Linked DNA regions of Homo sapiens: region 2 is linked to region 1. The links come from fine-mapping of genetic effects on gene expression. A gene starts in region 1. The other region holds a variant in brackets. All regions are shown on one strand. Distances are from middle to middle.

Evidence for each region. PIP is the estimated chance that this variant, and not a neighbour inherited with it, causes the effect.
Region 2: its variant is fine-mapped to the expression of IATPR in whole blood (INTERVAL, PIP above 0.99).

Annotation. Positions count from the first base shown.
Region 1 is chr10:33,114,676-33,120,058 of GRCh38, forward strand. IATPR (ITGB1 adjacent tumor promoting lncRNA) reads right to left here and starts at 2,132. Exons shown (of 3, transcript NR_160030.1): 1 at 1,796-2,132.
Region 2 is chr10:33,065,968-33,071,350 of GRCh38, forward strand. All of the region lies in intron 2 of ITGB1-DT (ITGB1 divergent transcript), which reads left to right. Among named protein-coding and RNA genes, the nearest start is that of IATPR, 48 kb to the right of the region's middle. The variant A/G (reference allele first, on the strand shown) is at 3,133.

The sequences.
Region 1 (5,383 bases):
TAATTCAAGTCAACCGTGCAGGAAGGAGGGAAGTAGAGGAGATGCAGTTTCATTTCCCATTAACTCCCCTGACCTGAATTAAGGTGGGAACTGAGGAGAACATCTGTAAAAATAACAGCATGCAAACTGTACAAGGACAGGGCCATGCCCAGTTAACCCGCTGTTTGAGGTCTAAATACTTTTTGGTTATTGTGCAATATGAGTAAAACATCCTCAGAGATGAATCATAGCTCTAGAATTTTAGATTATCACTGCATATGACAATATAAAAAAATCCATGCTCCATTACACCAATTTAATAAAGCAATGTGGCATCTACCTGCCTGAACACCAAAGACACGCAACCTTATGAAAAGAAAAAAAAAATCCAAATATTCATTCTTAGAGAATCACGATTTCATTGACTGGATCAGTGTCGGCTGCCTTCAGTATAAAAACAGGACAACTTTGAATATATCAGAGACTCTCCAAATATCATCATGGAGATTTACTAGGAGCCTTCATAAATATAGTGAGTAATAAAGCAATTTCTAGGGACTATATAGTAATCTTGAATTCTGTGATTCATATAAATGTGAATTATTAATAGAAAATAATCAAAATGATTTAATAAAAGTACATGTGTTCACATAGAAAGGGGGAAGAGAGGCCGGGAGTGGTGGCTCACGCCTGTAACCCCAGCACTTTGGGAAGCTGAGGCGGGTGGATCACGAGGTCAGGAGTTTGAGACCAGCCTGGCCAACATAGTGAAACCATGTCTCTACTAAAAATACAAAAATTAGCTGGGTGTGGTGGCCTGTGTCTGTAGTCCCAGCTACTAGGGAGGCTGAGGTGGGAGAACCCCTTGAACCTGGGAGGTGGAGGTTGCAGCAAGCCGAGACCATGCCATTATACTCCATCCTGGGAGACAGAGTGAGACTCCGTCTCAAAAAACAAAAGGGGGTGGGGGGTGGGGAAGACAGCACTGCTTAGATATTAGAAAAAATCTGAGATTTCATTGCTTTTTCTATAAGTTATAAGGTGATACCATGGAACTGTGGGCAAGTCCCTCAACAATCTAAGCTTCCATTTCTTGATCTCCAAAACAGTGGCACCGAGGTTTGCCTTGCTTACTGCCTTGAGAAGTTCAGGAGAGACAGTGCTTGTGAAAGTGTGAGTCAATTACTATTTGTTTTCTTGCATGTGGCTTGTAAGGAAGTCAGATAACATAAGAGAAGTGAGTGACTGAGTGTTAAAGTGAATTACCAAGGATGCTGGAACTTGAAATGCTTTTGTGTGTAGCAATGCAGGCCGAGCTGCCACGTGCTATCCTGTGTGTCCCCGCTCTCCCCGCGTTGCAAGCCCGCAGAATGCCCCGCATCCACTGAGCCGTGGCCAGCCCTACGGTGGGCAAGCCTATCAAGCGCAAACATTGGGAGGGTTCTGACTCTCAAGTGTCTTACAGAAAATAGAGCCAGGAGCTCCATCTGGCACTCCATTTGCTAAATGTCCCATTGATGTCAAACGCCAGGAAATGTGGCTGTTTAAAATCCCAGGGAATAAGATTTCCACTCAGCAGCTTTCTAATGTACGCGCAGCACTCTGCGAAGCAAAAGCCCTTGCTGAGCAGTCTGGTCACAGCCCCTTACACACAAGCTCTCTGGGCCTCCACTAAGAAGTACAAAGACACAGGGCAGAGGAAAATGGACTTATCAGCTCCAGTGGCTTAAAATATGCCGGATGCCAATAGAGGGCACTGTTGCATATCCACAAAAGCCCACGCTCCGCAACCTAGCAAGACCACCAAAGCACTCACCTCCTTCCACACTCTGGCTGCAGTCCTAATGATGAACAGGAGCGATTAAAGTGGCAATCCCACAAAACACGGCTTCTGGTCAAAGTTCATGACTGCTTCATCACCACTTTGATATTTGCAAAGGGGCTTCATGATCATTTTCAGTCCTGAGTCATCTCCAGTACTTTTCTGCAGAATGCTAGATCTCTTAGCTTCACTTTTCAGAAGACTGAAATCCAGAGAGGTTAACTAGATGACTTGAGCCCATTCAGTCCAGAACTAGACAGAGATAGAAAACTCAGGGTTCCTGAATTCTACGCTGGAGAGTTTTCAGAACGGTGCATTGCGAGCTTTGAATGAAAAACATCAACAGCCTGCATCCGCTCTTGACTCTTTAGGGGAGGTTGTATGGCTTGGTGATTAACTGGGACTTCACAGGCAGGACTCCTGTCCCCACCACCTCCTAATTGTCGTTTATCCCAGTGGAAGTTGATAACTGATAACCAAACCTGCAAGTGAGGCCCATTCTGCAGCCCAAGAAGGAGTTAGGGAGGGATAGGAAACAGACACATAAAATCAGGCCAAATAGTGAAACTGATTGGAGTGCTTTGGGGTATCAATGTTGTATCCTAATTGTCCTTTATCACAGTGGAAGTTGATAACTGGTAACCAAACCTGCAAATGAGGCCCATTCTGCAGCCCAAGAAGGAGTTAGGGAGGAATGGAAAACAGACACATAAAATCAGGCCAAATAGTGAAACTGATTGGAGCGCTTTGGGGTATCAATGTTGTATCCTTCAGCGATCCCTCTCAACTATTAGTTAACTGAGAACAGATTGCCCCGAACTTGGGAGCTGTCAGATCTGTTTCTTGCACTCTCCCACCATTGACCCCTGACTCCTACAGAATCTCATTTTGCATCCCACATTCTGAAGGCATTGAATCATTTTTTTTGGCTAAGCACATGTTGGCTCTGGAGTCGCCTATATACAGAGTCTTTGCTGCTGCATTTGAGGCCTGGTGACATGTTATATTATGTAATGTTCTGGCAGTTAAGGAAAACTCACGCCCTCCCTGTTATGTATGAAGTGTCATCTCTAAAGCAGAGACTATTTCTTGCAAAATGGCATTGATAAATGGATAAACGAAACCAACTGACAACATCCCCGTAACAATGCAGTATCCTTCACTGCCAGTTTATTTCTAGAACACCATTAGGCAAAAAAGAAGGCTTTGTGGCCTAAGTAGGTGTTTTCATATATTTCGGAATGACAAATTAAGACGACAAGGATTTTCAGTCAGGCCATGACAGTAAATGTGCGCTTGTCACTTGTTGTAATGCTGTCCGGCAGGCCATAAGGGCCAGGCTTTACTGCATGGCACATTGGGGAGCCAAATCTCTCTGGTGGCATCTTTCTGTCTGGCACCTCACTCAAGTTAGAAAACTCAACCTAGAAAAGACTGTTGGTCCCTACATGGGCAAGTGTTACTTTCGCTATTACTAAACCCTGTGCCAGTCTTGGGGCAGTCGGAAAGGGTGGAGGAAAACAGGGTGCTTTGATGGCTCTGGCCTGGTCTCAAGTGACACACCCTAATCTGAAGGGTTTGTGCCCACATCCTCTCCGCTGCAGCTGGGTGGCTGTTGGCAATCACCTTTGCAAGCACTTGTGTGTACCATGCCAGCGGTTGCTCGTGCCAATTAGAACTCAGCTGGATCTTGATATAAATGGGCCATAGGCTAATCGTTCTGGGATACATCTTAAATTAGTCTGAGAGAGTCAGAGACCACTGTAAAACCATTTGGCCCAGAGTTTGTGCAAGTTTCTCTGATCCAAAATGGCACCTTGGTATCCAGCTGTCTTGGATGCAGACAACTCTTTCACCTCGGGTCATCATCAAATGCCAAACACAAAAGAAATCCTAACCTCTCACTTTACACAAGAGGAGGCCAAGGCTCAGAGAATTGTAAAGACTTGCCACCAGGTTGTGGCAATGTGCAGTGAAGAACACAGTCTATTTCTGGCATCAGAAGGGCTCAAGTTTGGTTCTCCCAGGCACTGTTTGACAGAACCTCCCTGAGTCTTGGATTACTTTTTGTAACCTTCTGAGTTGTTGAGCAGGTGACATGCAGGAACACAGATATTTTAGTGTGCCCCCAATTGCCTGGGATACTGGTTAAATATGCAGATTTTTGGACCCCTGGCCCCCACCAGAGACTTGGATACAGTTTTTCAGGTTTGTTTTTTGTGGAACACTGTAGGGACAAATGGGAGTGTTTGCTGTGTCAGTGGCACAGCCTCTGATCCTTGTTCTATTCACTGTTCGCCTTCTAGTTTCAGCTCAGCTGTAGACAGATGCACTCCTGAGAATGTGACTGAACTTTACTAAGTAGGAATCACTGTAAACCTTATTCACCATCTACTCCACCCCCACCACTCGTCTTTTCTGGGTCACTACTTCTCCCTTGCGTCTAGTCAGCATATAGAAATAAAGATTGTGTCTACCTTTATTATACCCACTAGAAGGCCTGACATAGAAAATAAACGTGAGCCCATACCTATTATAGAGAGCAGAGGCCATTATGCCTTAACTTGCTATGTTCTGTTGCTACCATAGAACTGGACAAAGATGGAACTTTCATTCTAGTGGCTGGTCCATGGAGATATTCTGTGGTATTCAAAAAATCTTGGGGCATCTTTAGGGTCTAACACTTCCATTATTCATGCAATGTGACGCACTTGTATTTGGCATTTAAGTATACATGCATGCAAATATTTTACCTCAAACACAATGGTACTAAATATATTTTTATTTCTAATTCTGACTACAACCAATTTTCTACCATTTTTCTAGAACCAGAAAAATCAAAGTCAATGAAAGTAGCGAGAAGAACATTCACTGTGTAGTTTTCTGTTGTGCCTACAATCTGAGTTATTTATTTTAAAATTACATACTTCAAAATATTCCAACCCTGCCCAAACACTTTATAAAGACTCAGCTTTAAAAAAAAAGTTCTGATTTTGTTTACTGAAAAGGCAAAATTACAATCAAGGAACATTGGAGAGAAAATAATCTGCTATTCAGACACATCAGCTGATTTTATTCTTTTCAATTTTCTTTTTGTCCTTGTCCATATACTTGCAATTCAAGGAGGTTTGTTTTCTAGTTTCAGCTCAGCCATTAATAAGTATGATCCTGAGAAAGGAGCTTAACTTTAATAAATAGGAATAAACGTTTGTCTTATTGATGCCATTGGGTAGTTGTGGGGATTCAGAAATAAGGCAGGTGAAAATGTTTTGCATACTATAAAGTGCCCTAGATGTCAAAATAATTGTTATTTTGATCTAAGACTCTCATTTCATGACTATATCTTCTGTCTCTCCACAAGCTGTTGACATCTGTTTTTAGAGGGTGACAAATACAAAGTAAAAGGAAGATAAAAGGATCTACAAAGATTTCAGAGTATATGACCCAAAGAAGAAGAAGCTGAAAACCTACTTACTCGACATCTTCAAATATGTGAAGGCCAGTGAAAAACATAGAGTGGGAATCAGCTGTTACCAACTCTCCAGATATAAATTAAGATGTAATGGGCTTCAATTGCAGAGG
Region 2 (5,383 bases), 49 kb before region 1:
TCCATCTCAAAAAAAAAAAAAAAAATAGAGATGTTCATTTTTGTCTCATGTTAATAACAATGATTTGAGTTGGTGGGGTATCTCACTTTATTAAGTTTATCAGGGACCATGATCCTTTCATCTTGTTCTTCTGTCGTTTCCTAGGGAAGAGATATACAAATGATGGCTCCCAGATTGTTTTTGCAAATAAAGTTTTATTGGCACCCAGCCACACTCATTTGTTAACATACTGTCTACAGTTGCTTTAACAGGTAGAGTTGAGTAGTTGCAACAAACCAAATGGACCCCAAAGCCAAAAGTATTTACTATCTGCAACTTTTATTATTTATTATTTTTTATTTTTTGAGACAGGGTCTTGCTCTGTGGCCCAGGCTGGAGTGCAGTTGCATGATCTCGGCTCACTGCAACCTCTGCCTCCCAGGTTCAAGTCATTCTCCCACCTCAGCCTCCCAGGTAGCTGGGACTACCGGTACGTGTCACCACGTCTGGCTAATTTTTGTATTTTCAGTAGAGACAGGGTTTCACCATGTTGGCCAGGCTGGTCTCAAACACCCAACCACAGGTGATCCGCCCACCTCGGCCTCCTAAAGTGCTGTGATTACAGGCGTGAGCCACCACACCCAGCCACTTTCTACATCTTTAGTAGAGTTTGCTGGCCGAGGCTTTGTTATGGGTTAGTCCGTGTTTCAGCTCACTAGGAAGAAGGGCAGCAATTTCCTTTCAGGGTGGAAGTTGCATACATGACATCAGCTCACCCTTCATTGATGAGAACTTAGTCACGTGGTCATACTCAGCTGCCAGGTAGCCAGGATATGCAGTGTGGCCTTGGGCAGTGATATGCCCAGCTCTAATCATATCACTTTGAAAGATGGGAAGAATTAATTCTGGTACAAACCAACAGTGTCTGCCACATTTGTCCTCAGTATGAGCTCCCTTTCCCTTTCCCAAGTGTCAGACTACCCAAAAAATCCACAGTTCTCGTTCCTTCACTGCAGTGCCCTCTAGCTTCTGCTCCTGGCTTTCTTGAGTGTCTCTGTTGTTGCTTCTTATCTCTAATGTCACCCAGTTCTCATTTAATCTTAGCAAGTCCGGTTGACCTTTTAGAAAAACAGCCCTATGATTTATGACAGGGTTTTTCAACGCTGGCGCTTGACATGAAATTCTTTGTTTTAGGAGCTGTCTTGGGCAATGTAGAATGTTGAGTCACATCCCTGCCTTCGGCCCAGTGGATTCCAGTAGCATCTCCCTGTTGTGATGACCAAAAATGCCTCCAGACATTACCAAGTGTCCTTGGGGGGACAAAATTGCCTGTGGTTGAGAATCACTGACTTACAGGTGGATGGGATCTCTACCTTTTGTCCCACCATGTTTTTAATGGTCACCAACATTTTGGTTCAAAGAGAATTCCTCCTTTATAATGATAAATCTCTCTTGGTTTTACAAAGCAATGCTATTTGACTAAATTTAACTTCTTAGGTATTGAGTCTGTATTTGTAGATGTGAAGCTTTTTAACTCTGAGGAGCTCTAGGTAATTATTTCACCCAAATAATCCTATGAACACTAGAATCTATTCTAAAATATCAGATCTAGGCTATGGATCAGGGGAGACTTTGAGGCAGAGAGAAGAGAAGCTGTTTAATTTAGGAGGCAAAAAGTGGGGGCAGGAGGAAGAGAAGCTCATTGAGAAATAGTAAAAAAAGGACTTACTGGAATGTTGTATTCATGGGCAAGAAAATGCCGATTCATTTTACAGTGTGCTACATGATATTCCAGACCTCGAACTTCAGGATGCATTAAAATCACTTGGCACTCTTGTTCAAATGTGTTTAACCCACCTCCAGAGATTCTAGTTCAGTTGATCTGGTGGCAGGAGGTAGTGGGTGGGGTGGGCAGAAATGGAAATTCTGATGCCATTGATCCAATTTTAAAAAATGACTGTTTTAGACTAACTTTTCAGAAACGTTTAAAAATGTTTCTATGTTCATTTAAATAATAGCTGTCAATTGTGATTGAGGAATCACACCAGCATGAGTAGTTTATTTTGTCATTTAGCCCAGGTTCTAATTCATGGCATCTATGCCAAGTGAGGAACAAAGTGGGCTTTGTTAATTGCCTGCCAATACCTTGTTTCCCAGCACAGAACTCTCTAGAAGCTGGATTGCACCATGTGCTTTAGGCTGGAGCTAATGTTTGGCCTTTTATTTCCTCTTCTCTGGATTTCTGCCTATTTTATCTCTTGTCCTTCCCTCCAAAATAAATGATAGGCAGGGCCCTGCTACCGTAGCACCAGGCAAAGTCTATTGGTTACACCCTCCAGTGACCTAGGAAAGGGAGCAGGACAGAGAGGGACCATTTTGGTTGTAAAGATAAAAATTGGAACCAAAGGCAACAAGCCTCAAGTAGTTAATGAGGAACCTTAAAATGATGAGAAAAAGAGATTTTTGAAAGTTAAATTAGTGACTCTAATGAATTCACTTTAGCATGTGATGCCTAATCTCATTCTTGCCTGGTATCAATGACCAGCACCCACCAGTCAAGGCTCCTTTGCCCATGGCGAGGGCAGTTGTTTGGGCCAGCCAGAATCCCCTTGACACCAGAGAGGAGAGGCCAGGCCTCCTGTCCTGAGGTGGAAGCCAGTCCTGTTCTTCCTGTTGCATGGGCAGTTGGAATCCAGAGTGCACAAGAGAAGATAAAAGTCGTGCTTTGCAAGGGAACTGATCTTTAACACAGCAACCTTGGCTGATGAGGCTTAGGTTTTCACAAAGGAGATCCACCTACTCCTCAGAGTTGGTGCAAGCAGGAGGGCAGAAAAAGAATCTAAAATGTGGACAGGGCTGGGAGTGGTGGCTCACACCTGTAATCCCAGCACTTTGGGAGGCCGAGTCAGGCAGATCAATTAAGCCCAGCAGTTCGATACTAGCCTGGCCAACATGGTGAAACCCCGTCTCTACAAAAAATACAACAATTAGCCAGGCGTGGTGGCAGGCACCTGTAATTCCAGCTATTTGGGAGGCTCAGGCATGAGAATTGCCTGAACCAAGGAAGTGGAGGTCGCAGTGGGCCAAGATCATACCACTGCACTCCAGCCTGGGCAACAGAGTGAGAACCTGTCTCAAAAATAAATAAAATAA[A/G]ATGAAATGTGAACAGGAGTTGGCTCCTGTAGAGACCAAGTCCGAAATCAGATGCAGGGGAATAAGAACCTGACCTTCAACTCTTTCTCCTGCTTTTACGACTTTTCTCCCTTTCTCCTTCTTTTTCCTTCCTTCCTCCATCTCTTCTGTTTTTTTTTTTTTTCCTTTTAAAGACCAAAGACAAATTTTTCATATAGACCAACCTTAAGACAAGCTCAAGGAAGTAGCATTGTTCACACCTCTCCTTTTCTTCTTGTTCTGATATGGCCCCAATCTAGCTTGGGTTCAGTGTTGCCCCCTCATTTTGATACTCACACACTGTTTCTCTATCTCTCTCCCTTCTTTCCTTCCTTCCTTCCTTCCTTCCTTCCTTCCTTCCTTCCTTCCTTCCTCCCTCCCTCCCTCCCTCCCTAGCTCCTTCCTTCCTCTCTCTCCTTCTCTCTTTCTTTCTCTCACCCTCTTTCTCTTTATCTCTCTCTCTTTCTCTTTCTTTCTTGATAGGATCTTGCTATGTTGCCCAGGCTGGTCTCGAACCCCTGGCCTCAAGTGATCCTCCTGCTTCAGCCTCCCAAAGCATTGGGATTACAGGCATAAGTCACCATGCCTGACTCTTACACACTCTGATAACAGCAACTGTTACTGAGCTGAGCACATAGTAGGAGCCTTGTAAAAGCACAGAGTCAGTCAAATGCATATAGGCTGTCTCAAGTTGAAGCAGCTGTGTCCCAGAGGATTACTCAATGCTAAATTTCTTCTGTCCTATGTTACATTCTCTCTTGCTCCCACTTGCTTTGATCACCCACCCATCCTCAGAGATGTGTGTCCACCTGACCTGCCTGGCTCTGGCATTTTTATGAGGTGGTTGTGTTCTGATGGTGATCATGGCCCTGGTTCTAACTCTGCCTCATCCTCCCCATAGTGAGCAAGCTTTTCCCTCCCACCCTGCCCTCATAGCCTCTGTATTTGCGTTGATGTGCTTATCTCTGGGCTGAGAGCTGATTTGGTCTTCCCTGGCTACAGGGCTGAAGTAGGGCTGGTTGATACAGAGGTGCTCGGTCTGTCCTTAAGACCAGGGATGGTGTGTTAGTTTCCTTGGACTGCCATAACAAAGAACCACGAACTGAGCAGCTTCAACAACAGACATTCATTGTCTGAAAGTTCTGGAGGCTCCAAGTCCAAGATCAAGCTGTTGCAGGATTGTGGGCTCTGAGGTAGAATCTATTCTCGGCTAATTTCGTGGCTTCTGGCACTTTGCTGGCGATCTTTGGGATTCCTTTTCTTATAGAAGCATCACCCCAGTCTCTGCCTTCATATTCACATGGCCTTCTCCCTGGGTGCATGTCTGTGTCCAAATTTCCCCTTTTGATAAGGACACTAATCATGTGGGATGAGGGGCGTGTCCTACTCATGTGTGATTTCATCTTAACTAATTACATCTGCAATAACCTTATTTCCAAATAAGGTCACATTCCAAGGTACTGGGGGTTAAAACCTCCACATCTTCTTGGGGGACCCTTAAGAGATGGTGACTTTTCTGTCGCCATCTTTCACATCTGTCACTTGCATCTATTAACCTCTTTCCTGGGGCTGAGACTAGAGTGAAACAAATGAGAACTCATGGGGAACAATAAATTTAAGGGGACATAAAGTAGCTCAGCAGTCAAGATAAATTATATTTTAAATGAAGTGGGTTTTTAAATATATATATATTGTGTCTTTTTTTGGTCAGTTTTTTAGTGTTTTTAATTTTTTTTTTTATTTTTGAAGCAGAGCCTCACTTTGTTGCTCAGGCTGGAATGGAGTGGTACAATCATGGCTCACTGCAGCCTCCATCTCCCAGACTCAAGGGATCCTCCAGAGCCTCAGAGTCCAGATTAGCTGGGACTACAGGCATACATATGCCTGGCTAATTTATATATGTTTTTTGTATAGATGGGGTCTCTCTGTATTGCCCAGGCCTCAATCAGTTCACCCACCTTGGCTTCACAAAGTGTTGGAATGACAGTCATGAGCCACTGCACCCAGCTGTGAAATGTTTTTAAATGTAAAAGTCAATGGGAAAAAATCCATGATGAACAAAATATTAACGTCATAAAGAAAGGCAGGATCTGCCCTCACGCTTGCACGGTGGAGCCTCTCTCATCTCATCCCGTCTTTGCCTGCCCCAACATTGGCTTAATGGGGACTGAGCAAACCAAGGCCCACCCCGCCCCCTGTAGCTGGGACCCTTACCTCTTGTTACCCTTGACTA